Linked DNA regions of Homo sapiens: regions 1 and 2 are each reported to be linked to region 3. Evidence: microRNA targets listed by miRTarBase, many of them from high-throughput screens and not tested one by one. Region 3 holds a microRNA gene; each other region holds the end of a gene's coding sequence.
The links. Region 3 holds the annotated microRNA hsa-miR-124-3p (UAAGGCACGCGGUGAAUGCCAA, at 4,331-4,352, opposite strand). A microRNA usually pairs through its seed, bases 2 to 8, with sites in the 3' UTR of a target mRNA and lowers its output. Matches are read on the target gene's strand: a 7mer-m8 pairs with bases 2 to 8, a 7mer-A1 pairs with bases 2 to 7 and ends in A, and an 8mer does both.

Region 1 (7,197 bases), not on the chromosome of region 3:
TAATCCCAGCACTTTGGGAGGCCGAGGCAGGTGGATCACTTGAGGTCAGGAGTTTAAGACCAGCCTGGCCAACATGGTGAAACCCCGTCTCTACTAAAAATACAGAACTTAGCCAGGTGTGGTGGCACACATCTGTGATCCCAGCTACTCAGGAGGCTGAGACAGAATTGCTTGAACCCAGGAGGCGGAGGTTGCAGTGAGCTGAGATCGCACCATTGCACTCTAGCCTGGGCGACAGAGTGAGACTCTGTCTCAAAAAAAAAAAAAAAAAAAAAAAAAAAAATTCCCAGAGAAGGTTCTACAGTATTTCTGTACCAGTGTTTGATCATCTTCATGGACAAGAAGCATAATTTTCTTGAATACACTAAATCTCCCTTTCTGATTTCTCTTCTTAAGTAGCAACCACCCAAACTTCTCTTTAAATTGTAGGTCACCTCGGCTGGGCGCGGTCACTCACACCTGTAATCCCAGCACTTTGGGAGGCTGAGGTGGGTGGATCACCTGAGGTTGGGAGTTCCAGACCAGCCTGATCAACATGGAGAAACCCCGTCTCTAGTAAAAATACAAAATTAGCCGGGCATGGTGGTGCATGCCTGTAATCCCAGCTACTCGGGAGGCTGAGGCAGGAGAATCACTTGAACCCGGGAGGCAGAGGTTGTGGTGAGCCAAGATGGCACCATTGCACTCTAGGCTGGGCAACAAGAGCGAAACTCTGTCTTAAAAAAAAAAATTATAGGTCACCTCAATTTCACCTGTGTTCAGGGCTTTGTATCAAAAGTAGAGATGTCTATGAAACAAAAACTCAATTCTCAATATAAAAGCTAGAAAAACAAGACCGTGGATCTTAGGAGAATGAACGAGATGTCATGATGTAGGAAATAAAGTTTCATCTTCCACCTCGAAGTCAGCTGAGGATAATATTAGAAGAATTTTAAAAAGTCATACAGTCATGAGCAGGAAGACAGATTAGAATTCATCTAATTTGTGACTTTGCTTCTTGGTAAAATTGTCCCTGAGATCAAAGACATCATTAATATTCTCCTTAGGGACATATTTCAACAAAATGTGATAGAATAAAATGTTTGCAGTCAGTTTCCAAACTAAGATTCTTTGCTTGCTACTTGACACTGGACTTTAAATTTGTTCTCTACGTTGTCTTCCTTAACTATGCTTCAGGTATTTGTGCCCAGGACGTGGGGTGAGGAGTTGAGAGAAATGGGTGAAAGGTGTTAGAGAGGTAGGCAGGAAAATTAGTGAGGGTAGAAAGTCCCAAAATCCTTTCTAGAGGTAGAGCATGCTTCTCTTGCTACTCTTACTACATTAGAATAAGCCTGTCTCTTTTTGCTATTTACTACATATAGACTAAAACAGTTCTCCTTCTTAAATAGCAGAGACCACGCAGAGGCTGCCTTTGGATCAAGTCCAGGAAGTGCTTCCCCCAATTCCAGAACTATAAGTTACTTCCACAGTGCATCAGTGAGATCAATATACACGGTGAGTGATGATTCGGCTTTATCGACTTCTTCATTATAAACACAGATAAATTCAAGGATGCACAGTTGATCCCAAACTCCATTTCTATCTGGTAGGAGGTAGAAAATGATGAATTTGCAAAGTCAGTTCATATGAATTAGATGACATGAAATAAAATGACTATTTTCTCTAAGATCTAGGAAGGATCAGTAGATGGATCTCTTAGTCTGTTAAACTAATCTGTTAGTCTTTTAAACTGCTCCTGAGATGATAGCTTATCCCTTGGCCCTGTTTTTCCGGAGTTGAGCCATAACTTAGTTAGACTATGAGAAAATAGAGAATGAGATGTGTAAAGCAAACTGCCTCCTCCACAATTATTGAAATAAAAACTTCTCTAAATGTAACATCTGATAATCTAAATTAATGCATATTGATTTCCATGAATTTAAGTCTAAAAGTATGGTCAAAAGTGTTGAAATTTTTTTTTATTCATTCATCAAATCTTTCTTAAGTAGCAATTATGTTAAAGGCACTAGGAATAGCCATTGTAGGGGGTATAAAAATTATAACAGGGAAGGGGAGGGAAACTAGCATTTATAAGCATCCCACTTATTGTGCTTTGTGGTAATTGGTTATATCATTTACTCTTCAGAATACGTGGGTGGTTTTTCAGTCAAGGTCCTATCAGGAAATTGATATTGCACTCAAATTGAATAATTTGAGATTAGTTTAATGAAGGGCATATTAAACTAGGGTGTGGGAAAACTAAAAGGGAGAATGCAGCACCCTGAGACTAGGAAGAGTGGGGCCCTGCTACTGTCTTTAAGACTAAAGGGGAAAGAAACCCAGAGAGACAGAGACAGAGACAGACATGCATGCATGTATACACACACACACACACACACAAACACACACACACAGTGTGTGAGGAGGGCTGTCCTACAGGAGCTGTGACATTTGGTCAAGGGACACTATAGCCTGGGGTCACCCTGAAAAGAGAGAATAACTATCCTAACTTTGGGAACTCTTTTACACTGTTGGTAGGAAGAGTATAGCCACTACAGAAAACAGTAGGATATTTCTCAAAAAACTTAAAATAGAACTACTCTTCCATTCAGCAATCCCGCTACTGGGTATCTACCCAAAGGAAAATAAATCACCTCAGGGTGTGGTGGCTCACATCTGTAATCCCAGCACTTTGGGAGGCTGAGGTGGGCAGGTTGCTGGAGCTCAGGGGTTCGAGACCAGCCTGAGCAACATGGTGAAACCCTGTCTCTACAAAAAATACAAAAATTAGCCAGGCGTGGTGACACGTGTCTGAAATCCCAGCTACTGGGGAGGCTGAGGCAGGAAGATCACTTGAGCCTGGGAAGTTGAGGCTGCAGTGAGCTGTGTTCATGCCATGCCACTGCGCTCTAGCTTGGGAGACAAAATGAGACCATGTCTTAAAAAACAAAAAAAGAAAGAAACGGAAAAAGAAAATAAATCACTATAGCAAAGGGATACCTATACTCACATGTTTATTGTAGCACTATTCACAATAGCAAAGATATGGAATGGACCTAAGTGCCCATCAACAGGTGAATGGATAAACAAATGTGGTGCATATATACAATGAAATATTTGCCATAAAAAATGAAATCGTGCCATATGCAGCAACTTGGATGGGACTGGAGGTCATTATCTCAAGTGAAGTAAGCCACGGACAAAAAGGCAAATATCACATGTTCTCCACTTGTAGGTGAGAGCTAAAAAAGTTGATCACATGGAAGTAGAGTGGAAAGATAGAGAACAGAGACTGGGAAAGGTAAGTTGTGGGGAGAGGATGAAGGGAAATGGATTAAAGTGAAGGGAAATGGGTTAAAGGGTACAAATGTACAGTCAGATAGAAGGAATACATTGAATGTGTGAAAGCACAGTAGCGTGACTATAATTACACAAAAATGTATTGTACTTGGGCGACAGATATCCTAAGTATTCTGACTTGATCACTAATCACTATGCATTATATACATAGAACAAAAGTTAACAGGTACCCCATAAATTTGTACAAACAAACCCCAACTTTGCCATCATCTCTTCCTCTAATGTGCTAGTACTCCCCCATTGACCAAACCCAGCCAGAGCCAGAGGGCACTGGAGCCCAGCGGAGGCAGTTATGTAAGTTGGCCTCCCAGGGCACCAAGTAGGGTGGAAACGAGTGGAGGGCAGATTGGGAGAGGCAGCCAAAGGGATCCAGCGTCGATGGCTCAATACGCCAAATTGAAACTTAGTGCCAAGAATCTGTCTGTGTTCAAGGTTAAAGAGAGGCAGGTCTTAGTACTTTGGGTCTCAGTGCAACCAGGGTCTGCTGTTGGCTCAGAAATTCCTAAGTAGCATATAGTGTAGTCATATGATTGTGTCAATGAAATATTACTGGATATTATTATGCTCGAGACCTCTCATTCTGGTTGTTCATTCTGGGATGCTTATCTTTGCATCTGAAGAGTTCCTCTTTCTTTGTTCATTCACCAAATGATTTTTGACCACCTACTGTATGTTGAGAATCCTACTCATTGGCAAAAACAACAATGTAGTCAATGGAGGAGTCAGATTAGAGAAGCCCTAATTCCAATAAAGACTCAAGTAACATGATAAAGGTGTTCACATGTGAAGAGAGGGACTTGGGGAGCACGATAGAGAGACTCCTCCTTCAGAGGACATGATGCCTAGCGTTTAGATGTTCAATAAGGATTTGTTGAGTAAATGAATAAATCCCAATTTCTATGTCTCTGTGTTAGAATCATGGAATGTTATAATTGAAAGAAACTGGCATGAACACTTACACTTTCATTTGATAGATATAGAAAATAAACCAAACATGCTGTAGCAGCAGAGGTTAGTGGAGACTCTAGGTTTCCTTGGTCCTAGGCTGAGAAGTTTGTTATCACTGAGCACAATGTCTTCTTAGGGATATAATGGGGGGTGTCATGGCGTAACACAGAATCAGTCCTGGGGTCACCCTGAAAAGGGAGAATAACTGTCCCAACTTTGGGAACTCTTATACACTGCTGGTAGGAATGTAAACTAGTATAGCCACTACAGAAAACAGTATGGAGATTTCTCAAAAAACTAAAAATAGAACTACTGTTCCATTTAGCAATCCCACTACTGGGTATCTACCCAAAGGAAAAGAAGTCATGGAAGGGTGTGGTGGCTCACGCCTGTAATCCCAGTACTTTGGGAGGCTGAGGCGGTCAGGTTGCCCTGAAAGAGCCCTGAATCAGAGACTTGAGAACATTTTTTGGTGGTCTTATAAGCCATAGTTTTAACAAACGGTTTTAAAATTGTTTTCTGCCCATTCTAATTCAAGTAACACTTAACAAAATTTTTGTGTGAATAATATTTTCTTGCTTTTATTTAAATCTTCAGAATATCCCCGGGCAAGTTGGACCGAGCCCTTTGAAGAATACTCAGAAGTTTATTTTGTGAATGAGTAGACTGGAAAATGTTTGTGTCCAGCTGAGGATGCACAGTTGGAAAGCAGGAGGAATGCTGACTGGTTGATGAAAACTAGCTTAAGAGCATTCATTCGCTCCATGAGATCAAGGGAACAAGAGTGTTTGCAAGAAGCCATTATGAGTCATGGAAAAAAAGATGATGAAACCCATGGAAACAGCAAGAGAATTCCCACTCTCTCTCTTCTTAAAAAAAATCTATCATTATACAGCACAGAGTGGAGCCAAGTTTTTAATTTTGAGGAACCAAAAACAGGATCAAATATGAAAACCCTTTCTTTTATTGGGCCACATTGTAGATGCTGATTTGATAATTGTTTCCTATGCAGATAGATTATTTTTATTTCACAGATTATTTAAAAGGGAAGAGGGCCTGGTTGTTTATTTATATGTTTGTTTGCATTTATGAATCTTGCTGCCTTTTAGCACCAGGATGTTTTTAAAAAAATTCAAAGAGGCCAGGCGCAGTGGCTCATGCCTGTAATCCCAGCACTTTGGGATTCTGAGGTGGGAGGATCATGAGGTCAAGGGATCGAGACCATCCTGGCCAACATGGTGAAACCCTGTCTCTACTAAAAACACAAAAATTAGCTGGGTGTGGTGGTGCGCGCCTGTAGTCCCAGCTCCTCAGGAGGCTGAGGCAGGAGAATCACTTGAACCTGGCAGGCAGAGTTTGCAGTGAACCAAGATCACGCCACTGCATTACAGCCTGGTGCAGAGCAAGACTCTGTCTCAAAAAAAAAAAAAAAAAAAAATCAAAGATACCAATAAAACGAATTTAAATAAAATACTTAAGTACTTTAATAGCAAAACGTTTCCTTTGATTCTTTTGGCTTTCATATTTGTTATAGCCATTGTTAATGTCAAGCATAATTATAGTTACTAATAACAATAAAAAAGCACATATAGACAAGAGGGCAGCTCTTGACATTAAAATATAAACATGCTTTTCCAGAGTTAAGGTGGAACTTAATCTCCTGGCCATCATTATATGGCTACAGTTGCTTATCTGAGTTGATTTACAGGATTAACTGCAGGGTCAGATTTAATAATCAGTGATGGGGTTGAGGACACGCTGCCCCAAAATATGGCACCTTGGCAAACTGAATTTTTTAAGCTGAAGGATTTGAGAAAATGGCAAATTTTAAGTGGAAATATTACTCTGACCTTCCTTTGCCACCTTTCTCCCCGGAAGCAGGTAATAAAACCTTTGCTGACCTTCCTCTAAAACACATCATAGGACCCTCATGTGAGAGGTGCTCTTCCTGTATCCACAGAGGAAAGGCAGTTCCCTATCTCCCAAGACACAGGGACCCAGAGGAGAATCTGAACAAACGGGCTCTGCTAAGTTTCCCTCCATTTATTCCTATTAGATCTAGTACTCTTTTTGCCTGATCATATTTCTGCAAGTGTCTCTCCATTCTTCATCAAACCTACTACTAAAAACACTCAAGTGTAACTGTTTCCTCTGATCTTCACTTCCTGAGGATGGCCCTTGTGTTACGTAGAACTTGTTTAAATAAACCACTATGTTTTTCTCTGGTTAATCTTTTATTATAAAGGATTCAGCTCTGAATTTAAAAGGGTAGGAGGAAAAGATATTTTTCCCTTCCTACATAAGCAATCTAACAGGCATGAATATTCCAGCACACAGAGGTTTTTTTTTCTGGTATTCGATTATTTTTTCTCTAGATCACAAATTGAGATTCTAATTGTAAAATTTAGAGATTGAAGATTTCGCAAACGGAATTACAGTAGTCTCACTTTTTCTGGTCTGTGTATCCCTAAATAATAGGTGAGTCAAACTCAGGTCTGGGATTTTTCAGCGGTAGTGAAGGGGCATTACACCCTGTGAGGTATGGATATTATGCAATTTCTCAGAAGCCAAATTATTGTTTCCCTACACACCACCTCTTATGTTCTGACCAATGACTTAGAAATCAATGAGAACTTGGCTTGCAAAAAGCAAACATAAAGCTTCGAGTCCAGTTAAATTGTGGCAGCTTTCAGGAAGCTAATTTCGCCGATTCATTAAAATAATCGACTTTTAACAGATACTGTGACGCACGCAAAGATGTAGATGGCCTACTCTGCCTACAGAGAATTTACACTCTGGCAGAGGAGACAGGATGTGTACACCACTGGTGAAAATACTGGACACAATACGGTAAGCTAAGTGTCAATTGCAGGATGCATGCTTCCTGCTGAGAATTTACAAGCCAATAGG
Region 2 (7,175 bases), not on the chromosome of region 3:
AGCTACTCGGGAGGCTGAGGCAGAAAAATCACTTAAATCACTTTAACACGGGAGGCGGAGGTTGCGGTGAGCTGAGATCGCGCCATTGCACTCCAGCCTGGGCAACAAGAGCGAAACTCCGTCTCAAAAAAAAAAAAAAAAAAAAACAAGGAATGTGTAATTGCTGTTTTCTTCCCTCTTCGTATGTATGTAGGGGGAATGAGGGCTGAGTAGTTCACACTTAATTTAGTAGAAATGAGAATCTTAACTTCTGATTAACCCCAATTCTTCTATAACAGTGTTTCTGAATTTTTAATGGGAAATATGTTCTTCTTCAATTCATTGCTATCTCTACTTTCAGGATGGCAAGCTTACCAAGGAGGAGATCGTTGACAAGTATGACTTATTTGTTGGCAGCCAGGCCACAGATTTTGGGGAGGCCTTAGTACGGCATGATGAGTTCTGAGCTACGGAGGAACCCTCATTTCCTCAAAAGTAATTTATTTTTACAGCTTCTGGTTTCACATGAAATTGTTTGCGCTACTGAGACTGTTACTACAAACTTTTTAAGACATGAAAAGGCGTAATGAAAACCATCCCGTCCCCATTCCTCCTCCTCTCTGAGGGACTGGAGGGAAGCCGTGCTTCTGAGGAACAACTCTAATTAGTACACTTGTGTTTGTAGATTTACACTTTGTATTATGTATTAACATGGCGTGTTTATTTTTGTATTTTTCTCTGGTTGGGAGTATGATATGAAGGATCAAGATCCTCAACTCACACATGTAGACAAACATTAGCTCTTTACTCTTTCTCAACCCCTTTTATGATTTTAATAATTCTCACTTAACTAATTTTGTAAGCCTGAGATCAATAAGAAATGTTCAGGAGAGAGGAAAGAAAAAAAATATATGCTCCACAATTTATATTTAGAGAGAGAACACTTAGTCTTGCCTGTCAAAAAGTCCAACATTTCATAGGTAGTAGGGGCCACATATTACATTCAGTTGCTATAGGTCCAGCAACTGAACCTGCCATTACCTGGGCAAGGAAAGATCCCTTTGCTCTAGGAAAGCTTGGCCCAAATTGATTTTCTTCTTTTTCCCCCTGTAGGACTGACTGTTGGCTAATTTTGTCAAGCACAGCTGTGGTGGGAAGAGTTAGGGCCAGTGTCTTGAAAATCAATCAAGTAGTGAATGTGATCTCTTTGCAGAGCTATAGATAGAAACAGCTGGAAAACTAAAGGAAAAATACAAGTGTTTTCGGGGCATACATTTTTTTTCTGGGTGTGCATCTGTTGAAATGCTCAAGACTTAATTATTTGCCTTTTGAAATCACTGTAAATGCCCCCATCCGGTTCCTCTTCTTCCCAGGTGTGCCAAGGAATTAATCTTGGTTTCACTACAATTAAAATTCACTCCTTTCCAATCATGTCATTGAAAGTGCCTTTAACGAAAGAAATGGTCACTGAATGGGAATTCTCTTAAGAAACCCTGAGATTAAAAAAAGACTATTTGGATAACTTATAGGAAAGCCTAGAACCTCCCAGTAGAGTGGGGATTTTTTTCTTCTTCCCTTTCTCTTTTGGACAATAGTTAAATTAGCAGTATTAGTTATGAGTTTGGTTGCAGTGTTCTTATCTTGTGGGCTGATTTCCAAAAACCACATGCTGCTGAATTTACCAGGGATCCTCATACCTCACAATGCAAACCACTTACTACCAGGCCTTTTTCTGTGTCCACTGGAGAGCTTGAGCTCACACTCAAAGATCAGAGGACCTACAGAGAGGGCTCTTTGGTTTGAGGACCATGGCTTACCTTTCCTGCCTTTGACCCATCACACCCCATTTCCTCCTCTTTCCCTCTCCCCGCTGCCAAAAAAAAAAAAAAAGGAAACGTTTATCATGAATCAACAGGGTTTCAGTCCTTATCAAAGAGAGATGTGGAAAGAGCTAAAGAAACCACCCTTTGTTCCCAACTCCACTTTACCCATATTTTATGCAACACAAACACTGTCCTTTTGGGTCCCTTTCTTACAGATGGACCTCTTGAGAAGAATTATCGTATTCCACGTTTTTAGCCCTCAGGTTACCAAGATAAATATATGTATATATAACCTTTATTATTGCTATATCTTTGTGGATAATACATTCAGGTGGTGCTGGGTGATTTATTATAATCTGAACCTAGGTATATCCTTTGGTCTTCCACAGTCATGTTGAGGTGGGCTCCCTGGTATGGTAAAAAGCCAGGTATAATGTAACTTCACCCCAGCCTTTGTACTAAGCTCTTGATAGTGGATATACTCTTTTAAGTTTAGCCCCAATATAGGGTAATGGAAATTTCCTGCCCTCTGGGTTCCCCATTTTTACTATTAAGAAGACCAGTGATAATTTAATAATGCCACCAACTCTGGCTTAGTTAAGTGAGAGTGTGAACTGTGTGGCAAGAGAGCCTCACACCTCACTAGGTGCAGAGAGCCCAGGCCTTATGTTAAAATCATGCACTTGAAAAGCAAACCTTAATCTGCAAAGACAGCAGCAAGCATTATACGGTCATCTTGAATGATCCCTTTGAAATTTTTTTTTTGTTTGTTTGTTTAAATCAAGCCTGAGGCTGGTGAACAGTAGCTACACACCCATATTGTGTGTTCTGTGAATGCTAGCTCTCTTGAATTTGGATATTGGTTATTTTTTATAGAGTGTAAACCAAGTTTTATATTCTGCAATGCGAACAGGTACCTATCTGTTTCTAAATAAAACTGTTTACATTCATTATGGGGTATGTATGACCTTCATTTTCCAAGAAATAGAACTCTAGCTTAGAATTATGGATGCTCTAAAATGTCAGAATGGGAACTCTCCTCGAAGTTCTCCCAAACTCAGAGACAGCACTGCCTTCTCCTAAATGATTATTCTTTTCTCCCTGTTTTCTGGTATTTTCTAGCATCCTTCTCACCACAGCCATAACCCTTTTTTACTTCCATTAGGCCGTATAACTGGAGAGACCTGCTGCTCGTTATATAATTATCTGATACCAAACACAAGCGATTCTGAATGTACACACACGTTTATCTATAGAGCATAAGGTAAAACAATTTTGTTTAACATTTTGGTATTGTTTACAAATGTTATTAAAACATGCAAATTCATTTTGAGAACCTCGAGAGAATTAAACTATTAACTTTAGTAAACACACAGTTTAAGACAAATATAAAGGTTTAGCCAAATGCAACGGGGAGGAAGCACCTGGAATAATTTGTGCTTGCTCAGGGGCTTGTGGACATGGCTGTTCCTGCCAAAGCTGTAGCAGTTATCCAAAAGTTCTTTCAAACTCATATTTGGGGCCACTGAGTTTTTTTTGTTTTTTTTTTTGTTTTGTTTTGTTTTTTCTTTATGTCTCTCCCATTTCTAAAGTGTTTTCTTAAGTTTGTTCTAATTCAGCATATATCATCTCAGAATGGATCCCCAGCAGGAAAAAAAAAAAAAGTTACTAAAAAGGAAAGTATCCATACACTGAAAACTTAAAGCATATTCCTTTTTGGTTGCCTTGTATGTAGAAATCAGTTCTCCAAGTGCTGTGAATGGTGCCACTTAGGAGTAGAAACTGATGATTGTTGAAATGGCCTTTGGGTGGTCTGAAATAGACCAGTGGAAACAGTAGCTTTGTAGGCAAGAAGGCAATAGTAAGAAAATGAAAAATTGACTCCCCAAACTGCCATCACTCCTTTTACCATCTTTTTTGTGTTTTTAGTAGTTTGGTTTCTGACGGAGACAATAGAAACTTACTTAAAAGTAAAATTTAATTCTAGCTGTTGCAAACAGGCCAATATTGGGTCCTCAGTTGGGGCCAACTTGGGTAGACGAGACAGTAGAAACTTCTGTTTTCTGGGAGCTGCATGTGTCGGATTCATCTGTCATGGCCTTCCCACACACCATCTTCATGATGCAAGCTTGGAACTGGAGAGAAAGGTACAATTGGAGATAACCTTGGCAGATGAGGAAGTATGGGAAAAAAGACCTTATTCTCTGTATCACCAAAGCCTTGCACAATGCTTTGTACCCAGAATGCCCTTAGGTGGTTTTGAATCTATCTTCCCCATCCTGAAAACTATCTAGATTCCAGTCTAGAACTACTCCTGGGTCTACGGTAATCCTAAACTGGTCAAGTCTGAGACCTCACTGTTGGTAAATTCACAAACCATCCTGCTTCATAAAAGCACTGTCAGCAGAGGCCCCTCCATTACTAGCAGGTGCTCCCAGCTGGAAAGGACTGCCAATTCTCTTCTATCCAGGGAGGTTTCAAATTAGTTTTGAGTCTACCTCTGGGATTGAGGAAACAATACCATCTGAAAGTAGGGTTTTTGCCACTTAGGGTTTGGTGTTTATTAGCTCGGATTTCAGATGGGATAGGAAATCCCCCAGTACCTTCAGATGATAAGATATTTTAGAGATTTTTGCATGTGGTATGATTTCTGTGCTTCACACATGCTCGTGCAGGCTAAAAGTTGGAAGGGAAATGATTAAGAAATTATTAAATGCAAGGACTGAAAATTGAGAGGAATCTGAGTTTTTATTTTTATTTTTTTAATTTTATTTAAGTTCCAGGATACATGTGCAGGATGTGCAGGTTTGTTACATAGGTAAACGTGTGCCATGGTGGTTTGCTGCACGAGTTTTTCAATAAAATGCTTTCATTCATCCTGTTCTTTGGAGCAACTTCATTTTCCTGACTCAAGTTCTTTCCTCCGGGGTTCTATTTTCTCGTCTTGATAACCGTGCCTTCCTCCCTGTGCTTACCAAAGGCTTCCCAACCTACTCGGGGGTTTTGTGGCTTCCCTCGTCTACTAGAAACCTGGGTAGAGTCCAGGGTGCTCTGAGTTAAAAGTCAATGGTGAGAAAAGAACCAGGGTCTTCTGGACCATAGGAATGTGAATAAAGAGCTTTACCTGCTTATTCATGAAGCAGTAGATGATGGGATTGTAGATGCAAGCACTCTTGGAGAAGAATGAAGGAATGGTGACAAGCCGTAAGTCCAGCCCATGGTTACGGTTGTTGACCATGTACATGGCGAAGGCCGCGTAGGGCACGTAGCAGACACAGAAGGATCCTACCATCACAACCACCATGCGGCTCACCTCCCGTTCAGCCTTCTGGGTCGTAGCTGACTCCTGCTGCTGAGCTGCAACCTGGGGTGGAGCACGGAAAGCATCACATCTCTCTTTTTCCTGGCCCTCTGGATGCTTTTTTTTTTTTTTTTTAATTTTTAATTTTTAATTTTCTTTTTGAGACCGAGTCTCGCTCTGTTGCCCAGGCTGGAGTTGCAGTGGTGCAGTCTCGGCTCACTGAACCTCCACCTCCCGGGTTCAAGTGATTCTTTTGTCTCAGCCTCCTGAGTAGCTGGGGTTACAAGCACACACCACCATGCCCAGCTAATTTTCGCATTTTAGCATTTTGCCATGTAGGCCAGGCTGGTCTGGAACTATTGACCTCAGGTGATCCGTCTGCTTCGGCCTCCCAAAGTGCTGGGATTATAGGCGTGAGCCACTGCGCCCGGTCTCTGGATGCTTTTCTGTGGGATGGGGGAGGGGGCATCCACTCTGATTGCCTCTTTTCTGTCCCATCTCCTGGCCTAGTTCCTTTGGATCTCCATCATTCTCCCTCCTCCTACTTCCTTTGCTGCTTTTAGATACCCTCTCTGGCTATGGACATTTCCAGGCATCTTATGTTTCAGAGCACTCTTCCTTCTCATGTGGAGCCCCGAACCCCTTCTTCCCTGACTATCAAATGCCACTCACAGCTTTCAGGGCCCTCAGCAGCTGAGTGTAGGAGAAGCAGATGAGGGAGAGAGGCACAATGAAGCAGAAGATGAAGAGGAACCACGTATAGGACTCGCTGCGGTATTTGGTGCCCACGGTGTACCAGTCAGGGCCACAGGAACACTGCAGGCCCTCAGGGATGAACCTGCAAAGGACCAAACACTTGCTCACTGGACTCTCCACAAGAGTGCAGTGGGAGCTGAGATGCCTGGATTGTGTTCTCCACTTAGAACCCACGGAATGCCCTAAGGCTTCAAGCAGGGGGGTTTTCTGTCCTGACTGGGAGAAGCTACAGCAATTCCAACTGCAGAGTAAACGTTAGCACTTGTCTCCCACTGCCCTTTCGCCTCATATTGCAACTCTTTAAAAGTAGAGGTCAAAGACTAAATAGTTATACCCAAGCTCTCTTTCCACCCACATCAACCTGAGCTCCTAGTTAACTCAGCACCACTGCCCTGCACTCTCACCGGCTCCAGCCAAAGAAGGGTGGGATGGAGACGCCAATACCAATGGTCCAGGTAGCCAGGACCACCGTCAGTGCATGCTTGGAGCTGAAGCGGAAGTTGCCGAAGGGCTTACAGATGACAATGTAGCGCTCAAAGGCCAGGAAGGCCAGTGACCATCCTGTAACCAGACCTGTGGTGAAATGTGAGGATAATGGGCTAGACAGAGCCCCACCCAGCCTGGCTGGCAGAGTGGCAAACAGATCGGGTGGAGCAAGCACAGAGAGACAGGGCTGGACTGACATTTGGAGTGAAGACTCAAACATCCTATTTTAGCCAAACTTCTAGTCTGGGTTGCTTTGTACCCCAGTATTTTAAAAAGCACCAGACTCATTTCCCCCAGACTCCTCTTTAGGAACCCCCTCCAGTGGAGTAGCAACCTTTGCCTTCCCCTAACCCCTTTTTCCCCTGCAGTACCTGCTACAGTGCCCAGGAAGCCCTCCAAAGCACAAACATGGCGACCGAAGACGAAGTATCCGTTACAGCTGGCGACGAAGACAGGGAAGACAGAGAAGATGCAGAGGAGGAAGCCTCCGAAGGACACGTTGACCAGAATGTAGTTGAGGGGCTGCCGCAACTTTTTGTAGCGCAGTGTGGCCACCAGCACCATGGCATTGAGTGGGAACCCTATAAGGAAGACAGTGCCCATGAAAGCTGCCTGGAGGTAGAAGGCCCAGACAGGGGCAATGTGGTACTGAGGCCCATCCCACGGCCCCACTGAAGAGATATTTTTGAACAGATAAAACTCTTCCTCCGACATTTTTCTCATGGATGCCCCACACCCCCCTCTGAGTCCTCTTATAGGTGATCCTCCCACCCCACAAAACCCCTCCTCTAAAAACACTTGGGCTCTGTGAATGATCAATACTAATCCTA
Region 3 (7,197 bases):
ATTCTTTGGAGAAATAGCTTTCAGAAGACAAATGTACCCATATTTATACGGAACTTGACACAATTGGTCAAATATTTAACCTGATTTAACATTTAATCAATACAAGATTTTTAAATTATAGCAAATTGTAAAATCATACAATTTTTAATTTTATCTTAGTATTCTCAACAATCTTAGAACTTAATATTCTTATAGGCATTTTGATTTAAAAGCTAAGACTAAAATAAGTGATTTTAAACAGCTATTTTGTTCTGACACCATAAAATAAACAGAACTTTATTTTTACAAGATTTATTAACAACCACATAGTTAATAGAAGCATTTTATTACATCAGCACTAATATATGCAACAACAGACTTCATGGCAAAGGTGTGCGTTTCAAAATAGGTGGCCATCTTGAAATTCATAATGTTGAATAACTACAAACGTACATTTATTTTAATCAATATAAACCCTATAACATAAAAATTTGAAAAGGTTTGAACCTTTAAAAAAAATCTCTATTTCATTTGGTAATTGATTTTCCATACTGAAAAACTCATTTTTAATGCAAATAACGTTTCTTATGGCTTTGCCCATGCTGCTACCATATCTCATTACTTCTACTCAGAGTGGGTTATTTTCTAAAGAAGGCTTTGCAAGCTGAGTGTGTGTGTATAAATGTATTGCAAAGGTTTTAAGGGCAAAAATATTGTACATATTAATAAGAAGCAAATTTTTCTTCTTCTTTAAAATAATTCACTTTCTTATTTCAAAACTTCAAGTCTGGTCAAAATTTGGGTTAATCACTGAAACAAAACAACAAAACAATGATTTACATCGAGACTTAATTTCTTTCTTTTTATTATCGTTTTAAACTAACACAACAACATGTGCTCGGTATCTTTATTTTAATTAAGATTTGTTTCTTTATTAGATCTTAGTTATTTGGAGAAACCAGGACGTCTTCTCCACTCACCTGTTTTACACAAAGGTTTTTCACTTAGATTTGCAATTTCGTATTTCCATATAAAATTCGAGAAAGAGTGGAGAAATATAACTACAGAAATAATCTGAAAACTTCAAAACACGGACTTTTCATTATCCTCCAGAATAGAAGATAACATCCAAGGAGTGCTCAAAATCAAAATCAGGTGGCCCTTTCAAAAGTAGAATATGATGAGAGCTTTTAAATTTCACAGATTAAACGTTTCTAAGAGCTTAATGTTTCCTCCGCTTATTGCCACTGTGCCATCTGGCTTTTGTAACTGGTGTCCTGCCTCTTTGAGGCAGCAGAGGGCGCTCTGGCATTGTTGACACCAGATACCTCCCGGTGCACCGCGCTAGCATCTTGTTCCCAGGAAGGAAACATACTATTTCCCTGGAGGGTTGTCCTTGAGTATCTCAACGGGTCAAGCTGTTCCTAAATTATTCCGAGAAGCTTTAATTTCAGACCTAGATGAAAGCTGAGATTGTCAAAGGACTCTCACGGCACGCCGCACCGAAGTTCTCCCATTGCGAAGCCCGGGTTGTTTTATTGCAAAACTGCCGCGCATAGAATTTCTTTCATAGCAGGAAAATTTGTAATGGGCATCAAACTGGATGATTATTTTCCAAAGAAATAGGAAGTACATAGTCTTAAAAATCTAGAAACATCACGGATCAATAGCCACTCGATTTCATCTAGGCAACCGAATTACTAAATTGAGTGTTTCCCTTTTTAAGCAGTATTTTAACCTCTCTCATATCACGTATTTCATTTCTATTTAGAAAGCAATTTTAAACTGATCAAGCTTTCTGAAGGACAAGTTTAGATGATCCTAAACAGGTAGGATTAGGCTGAGGGGATTAGGTTTGCTCCTCTGAGGTAGTATGAATTCTAAAGGAATCAGGCAGGACGATTTTGCAGCCCTGGACCATAGCTGCTTTGTGGATTACGCAAGATGTGGATGCAGGAGATCAGCGCAATTGGATGAATACTGGAAGGAAAAAGCAAGGCCGCCATGATAACGTGTAATGCTTTAAATTCATTTCTGCTTCCAACGACTGCTTTTAATTGGCACAAGAGGAATATTCCCAATCCTTAAATTTTGTAATTCGAGCAGCCCCTATTTTCCAGTGTGCTTTACCCACCCACTCCGAAATTGGATAAAATTAAATATAAACCAAAGTAATCGATGAATGTGAAAGACCCGACTTGCAGAGTTCTAAAATTCGAGGACAGATAAAATCCGCCCTGAGGCAGGGGGTGAGAAGGCAGCTCTCTGAGGATATTGCACCTGGCCGCTTTATTTCATGAATTTTATGATACATCTACATCCCGTGTAAAAAAAATAACTTAATGAACACATGTCTTTTAGGTCATTGTCAATGCATGGCCCATTGTTATACCTGGATCAAAATCGGTGTTGCTGTCTCTATTGTCCAACCTGAATTATTTTGTCTGTTACTAATTTTAACACCCTTTATGTTTGTGAATTTATAGACAAACTCAAGCAAATGCATAGAAATTTCTTTTGAGAAATAGCCAGCCAGGGTGGCTACGAATTGGTTGATTTTCCGTCTCTCTCTCTCTCTCTCTCCCTTGCCATTTTGATTCATTACTTAGGGAATTTAAATTTGTATTGTTTACATTTAATACTTTCAACATCTAAGAACGATGAAATATGCTAAGAAATTTAGATTTTTGAATATATCAATACTGACTCATCCAACCTTCGATTTCTAAGGCGAATTTTCACTGCATAAGATTTAGTAAACCGCCCTGCCTCTTTCCGTCGCGTGAGCTATGAGGATGTGGCTGAGGTCGGTTTTTCCGCAGTGCGGGTTTCAGGCCTCCTGGCCCTCCAGTGCCTCCCGCCGGCTGGGATGCGCCGAGCAGGCTCCTGCGCAGCAGAGCGGTCTGCAGAGCTCAGCCCTCTGTACCCGTCTACTAAGGCTGCCGGGCTGCAAGGCCTGGCCGAAGGTGGCAAGCTGCATGGGCTCCTGCCCTGTTTCACCTGGTGGGTCCCCGACCCACCCCTTCCTAGTTAAGCCTCGAGGCCCACACTTGAGTCCATTGCACGTCCCTTTGGTGACCAAGTAAGCACTAAAATCCGCGGCTGAGGACCTTATGTTTCTGTTTTAAGGAAGATGATTTAAGAAAGAAAAGGATAATAATAAAGCCTTCATTCTCCTCAATTTCCTTCTTGCAATCCTGCGATTTAGGTTTCAGCCTAAATAAAGTGGAAATGGTTTCCCCATACACTTACAATGTATGTATGTGTGCATTCCTACGTGAAGACCAAAAAGTGTCAGGCAAGGGTAGCAACCAGCTTGAGGGAACGATTTCAGTAAAATATTGTTTTGCTGTATGTGACCTTTTTCTCTTTTTAAATGTTATTTTTCAAATTACCTAATATCCTACTCTTCTTTTGAGTAGGGACGGGACGGTCCTATTGCTTTTCCAGTTTGATTACGGAGAGAGAAAAGGGCCACGGTCAGCACCGCGGACAGCGCCAGGCAGGGAGGGCGCGGCTACTTTGGTGCATCCTCTTAGCTCCTCTCCTTTGTTCCCAACCCCTGCAGGCCAAGGCAGAACAAAGACATCAAGGCTCGCTTTTTCGGCCTGGGTTTTTCTTTGGCTCCAAAGTCGTGGTGCGGAACTGCTACCTCAACATAGTCCACCTCACTGGCTTCCAAACAAATTAATTTACCGAGTCCTTCTAAAGTTTCTGACCTGGTCCTTTCACCTTATCCCACTCCTTTGACCGATTTGGACATTGCGACAATGCCAAAACAAGAGAGTTATCTTGGCGTCTTAAAGCCAGGCATGAACGCCTCGAGATTGGGAAGAAAAAGGGAGAAGTCAAGGGGAAATGCGGGCGGCAAGTGTTCTTCAGATCTTTCCAAAGTTTGGACGTTTCATTTGCTGTTTCTTGCGCAGTGTGGTCAGGACGCTATTTAATGTTACACCTCTCTCTGCTGTTTTGTTTTCCCAGCTTGGCCCAGGACTGCAGACAATCACACTACCTGTTCTTGAAAGAACTAGTGCTTTCTAAATGATTTAACTCTCTGGAATATTTGCACAGGCGGGAACTACTGCTCTCCAGACAGCTGTCAATGAAGCTTCCCTAAAATTCTCCTCGGAGATTTGCCTGCGGATTTCCGCGGCTGTAATGGAAAAGTAGGAGCCTTTCCCTTTCGAACACTAGGTTGCTTCCAGAATCAGTCCTGGGTGGGGGTGGGGGGCATTTATGCGGCAAGAGATGGGTTCCTTTTACTACCCCCTAAATTCCCTGCAATTGCTTTTTCCCCTTTCTGACCCTGAGATGCTTTGGTGTCCTTCAAGTGCAGCCGTAGGCTCCGCTCTTGGCATTCACCGCGTGCCTTAATTGTATGACATTAAATCAAGGTCCGCTGTGAACACGGAGAGCAGAGCCTCTAATCTTGATCCGGAAAGTATAAGACCCACTGCGATTACCACTCTTCTCTCCCTGCCCATCCCCCTCTCTCCGCTCTGAGTCTCTACCCCTAGAGTCATAACTCATAAGCCCAGCTCCTGTCTCTGCTCATCTCTGACACATCTGCCAGAGCCGCTGTTAATTAGTCTGTTCCGTGGAAGTGTAGACGGTGCGTGTGCCTGCGTATACATATGCATATATCTCCATGCCATTTACAGCACACGCCTAAAAACATACATAAGCCTATAAATCTAGTTTTCAAATGACGGCGTGGATCCAAGTTAATTACCCCTCTGGTACAGATCTAATTTTGTAATCGTGTTATTTTACTGAATGCAATTAACCCAGTTGGTTCGCCCTGAATCCTTTCTAAGGCACTTGTAAGGAATGGCAGGTTTTTAAGGACCACGCTATTGCATGTTCTCCGTCATAACCATTGCCAATCATTTTCTGCTGTCAGGGATGAAATCTAGCATATAAAAGAGAAAACCATGCGTGTGTGCCTGTAAGATAAACACACAGATATGCCTGGGCTCTGTGTCCTTTGATAACGTTACCGCGGGTTTGGTTGGGAGATTTTGGGAAAAGAGAGTCCAAGGGCGGGCTGGGTCATCTTTCTTTGTAATGCGGAAAAATTAACTCATCCGCACCTGCCTAGTCCCGAGAGAGCTGGGCGGCCCATCTGGTCTGGCTACAAGTTTGCTGCGGAGAGAAAAGCCTGCTCACTAAAGCTTCCCCACTGCCCAGGAGCGCGGACCTCGGGTCTGGGCCCGGAAGAGGGATTAGGCTCAGGGCAGCGCAGCCGACTCGCACTCCTCAGCCAGTGGCCACAGTCTGGGGCTGGAAGCGCCTGGGCCGGGCGGAGGGAGGGCAAGCAGGAGAGAGAAAAGGGTGAGGGAAGTTGACCTCTACGGGCGGAGCCCTCTGCGCAGCGGGCAGGAGGCAGCGGGCGCGACGGCTCTTTTCACGGCGTCCCCTACGGCGTGGTCGACCCGAGGGAAAGGCCCGCTCCCGCTCCAGAGTCCGAGGAAAGGAGAGAGAGCTGAGAGCTGGTCTTGCGCAGAGACCCCAGAATGCGCCCCTGAAAAACAGAATCAAAGCGCAGTGTTAGGGAGGCGGGAGAGAGGAGGGGGAGGGTGGGGAGAGGGACACGAGGCGGGAGGGAGCATGCGAGGGATACAAGGTGACAAGAGGACAGGACCCCAGTCGGCCGGTCGCGACCTCCGTCCCCAGGCTTCAGGGGGACGCGGAGGGGACCCTGAGCCCACGGAGCGCGGGGCCCGCAGCCCGGGGGGAGGGGGTGGCGCGATGACTGTAAGCGCAGGTCTGGGCTGCGGAAGTCCAGAGGAGGGTGCATGCGCTGCGGATACTGCCGCGTCCAGAGAAACGATTTCGGGAGCTGGAGCAGTGAAAACGAGTCCGCAGATGGTCCTTCTGTGCAGTCCCAGCCGTTCCCGCATTCTGCACCCCCTTTCCCAGCCTCACCCCCTCCCTTGGACCACACGCCAGACCCGCACTCTCGAATCTCCACCCCTCTTCGTTTAGGACCCTGCAAACTGCAAGACCGGCAAGAGAATCGAAACGATCGATGAGAGAAAGAATTACATATACCCATAGCCCTAGAAATCCGGAGAGAGACCTGCTAGCCCTGTTCAAACCTGCAGAGGACCAAAACGTTTTCAATCGCTGCTCAGCGCGTTCGCAGAGGAAAGAAGAGGCTGAGAGCCTTCCGTGGTATAAGGTGCTTTAAGGTGGGAGGTGGGGGTAGGGAGGGGGTGGGTCGGAGCGGTCCGGTCTTTCCCCCTCGCTTGCTGATCCAGAATTAGGGATTAATGGCTCGCTCCAGCCAAACAAATAAGGCATCTGCCTTCAGCACAAGAGGATTACACGGGCTGCTGACGTCACCAGTCAGACAGATGTTGGCTCCCAAAGTCCTGAGCAGCTCGCTGTGTCCTTGAAACCAAAGAGCCGCAGAAGGCTCGCAGCCCCCAGTTGCAGAGCCTAGGTACAGCAGAGGGCAAGAGCCCTGCCCTTGCCGACAACCTCTTGGCGTCAACCCAGTGCCCGCAGGCAGCTCCCTAAGACGTCGAGCTTCCAGCCTCTCCAAGCGCTCCCTTCGCCGTCCTGCTGTCAAAACCCAGGCTCTCTCAAAACAAGCCAAAGTCACCGTTCTCAGTTGCCTCTCCCTAACATGGAGACAAACGCCCACAACCCAGTCGACACCTTATCTAGATCCCACATTTAAGCTCTCGGGCTCCTGTTCACTCACACTCGGTTGGCCAAGTAACAGGAAAATAAGCACCTTAGGCCGGACACAGCCCACGCTCCAGCTGAGGGACCGCCTCTTAATTATGTGCGCAAGCAGCAAAAGCAGAGCTAATCTGCATCTCCTCTTCTCAACCCCGCAGCCTGCCTTCCCCCGAGGCCAAGGTTTAGGTTTATGTTTAATCTTATCACGAATGCCATTCCGGACGAATGTGCCTTTCAAAACAATGACGCTTTGCCAACCTAACTCAGCGTCCCAACCAGAGCCCTGGACCACCACTCGGTGAACCACGGGGACCTCACCATGGTCCTGATTAGGACACGGAAAAAATGTCATTGCATATTCTTCTCAAGTACTTTGAATACGTTGTCTAAAACTAAAATATTAAAATAAGTATGTGTGTTCAAAATATATGTAGCATCTAATTCCAGCAACCTGCACATTCAAAGAACTGCAGTTTCATTTTATAGCCAAATCTGATGAATAAAGATCAAAAATTAATTTATTTA

Region 1: the mRNA of TMEM156 is a reported target of hsa-miR-124-3p. The part of its 3' UTR that is shown has no 7-base or 8-base seed match.
Region 2: the mRNA of CALU is a reported target of hsa-miR-124-3p. Seed matches in the 3' UTR shown: 7mer-m8 at 1,422-1,428.

What each region holds. Positions count from the first base shown.
Region 1 is chr4:38,965,329-38,972,525 of GRCh38, reverse strand. It overlaps TMEM156 (transmembrane protein 156), which reads left to right. Exons shown (of 7, transcript NM_024943.3): 6 at 1,389-1,494; 7 at 4,885-5,782. The coding sequence ends at 1,456. Among named protein-coding and RNA genes, the nearest start is that of TMEM156, 63 kb to the left of the region's middle.
Region 2 is chr7:128,768,723-128,775,897 of GRCh38, forward strand. CALU (calumenin) reads left to right here. Exons shown (of 7, transcript NM_001219.5): 7 at 341-4,678. The coding sequence ends at 445. It overlaps OPN1SW (opsin 1, short wave sensitive), which reads right to left and starts at 7,072. Exons shown (of 5, transcript NM_001385125.1): 1 at 6,717-7,072; 2 at 6,264-6,432; 3 at 5,776-5,941; 4 at 4,927-5,166; 5 at 3,763-3,937. The coding sequence starts at 7,059. The coding sequence ends at 3,818. RefSeq lists cis regulatory regions at 7,058-7,175, 7,066-7,175, 7,069-7,175, 7,069-7,175, 7,069-7,175 and 1 more.
Region 3 is chr8:64,376,365-64,383,561 of GRCh38, reverse strand. It overlaps MIR124-2 (microRNA 124-2), which reads right to left and starts at 4,413; the gene lies at 4,305-4,413. MIR124-2HG (MIR124-2 host gene) reads right to left here. Exons shown (of 3, transcript NR_109792.1): 2 at 5,073-5,503; 3 at 1-1,959. RefSeq lists an enhancer at 6,419-6,996.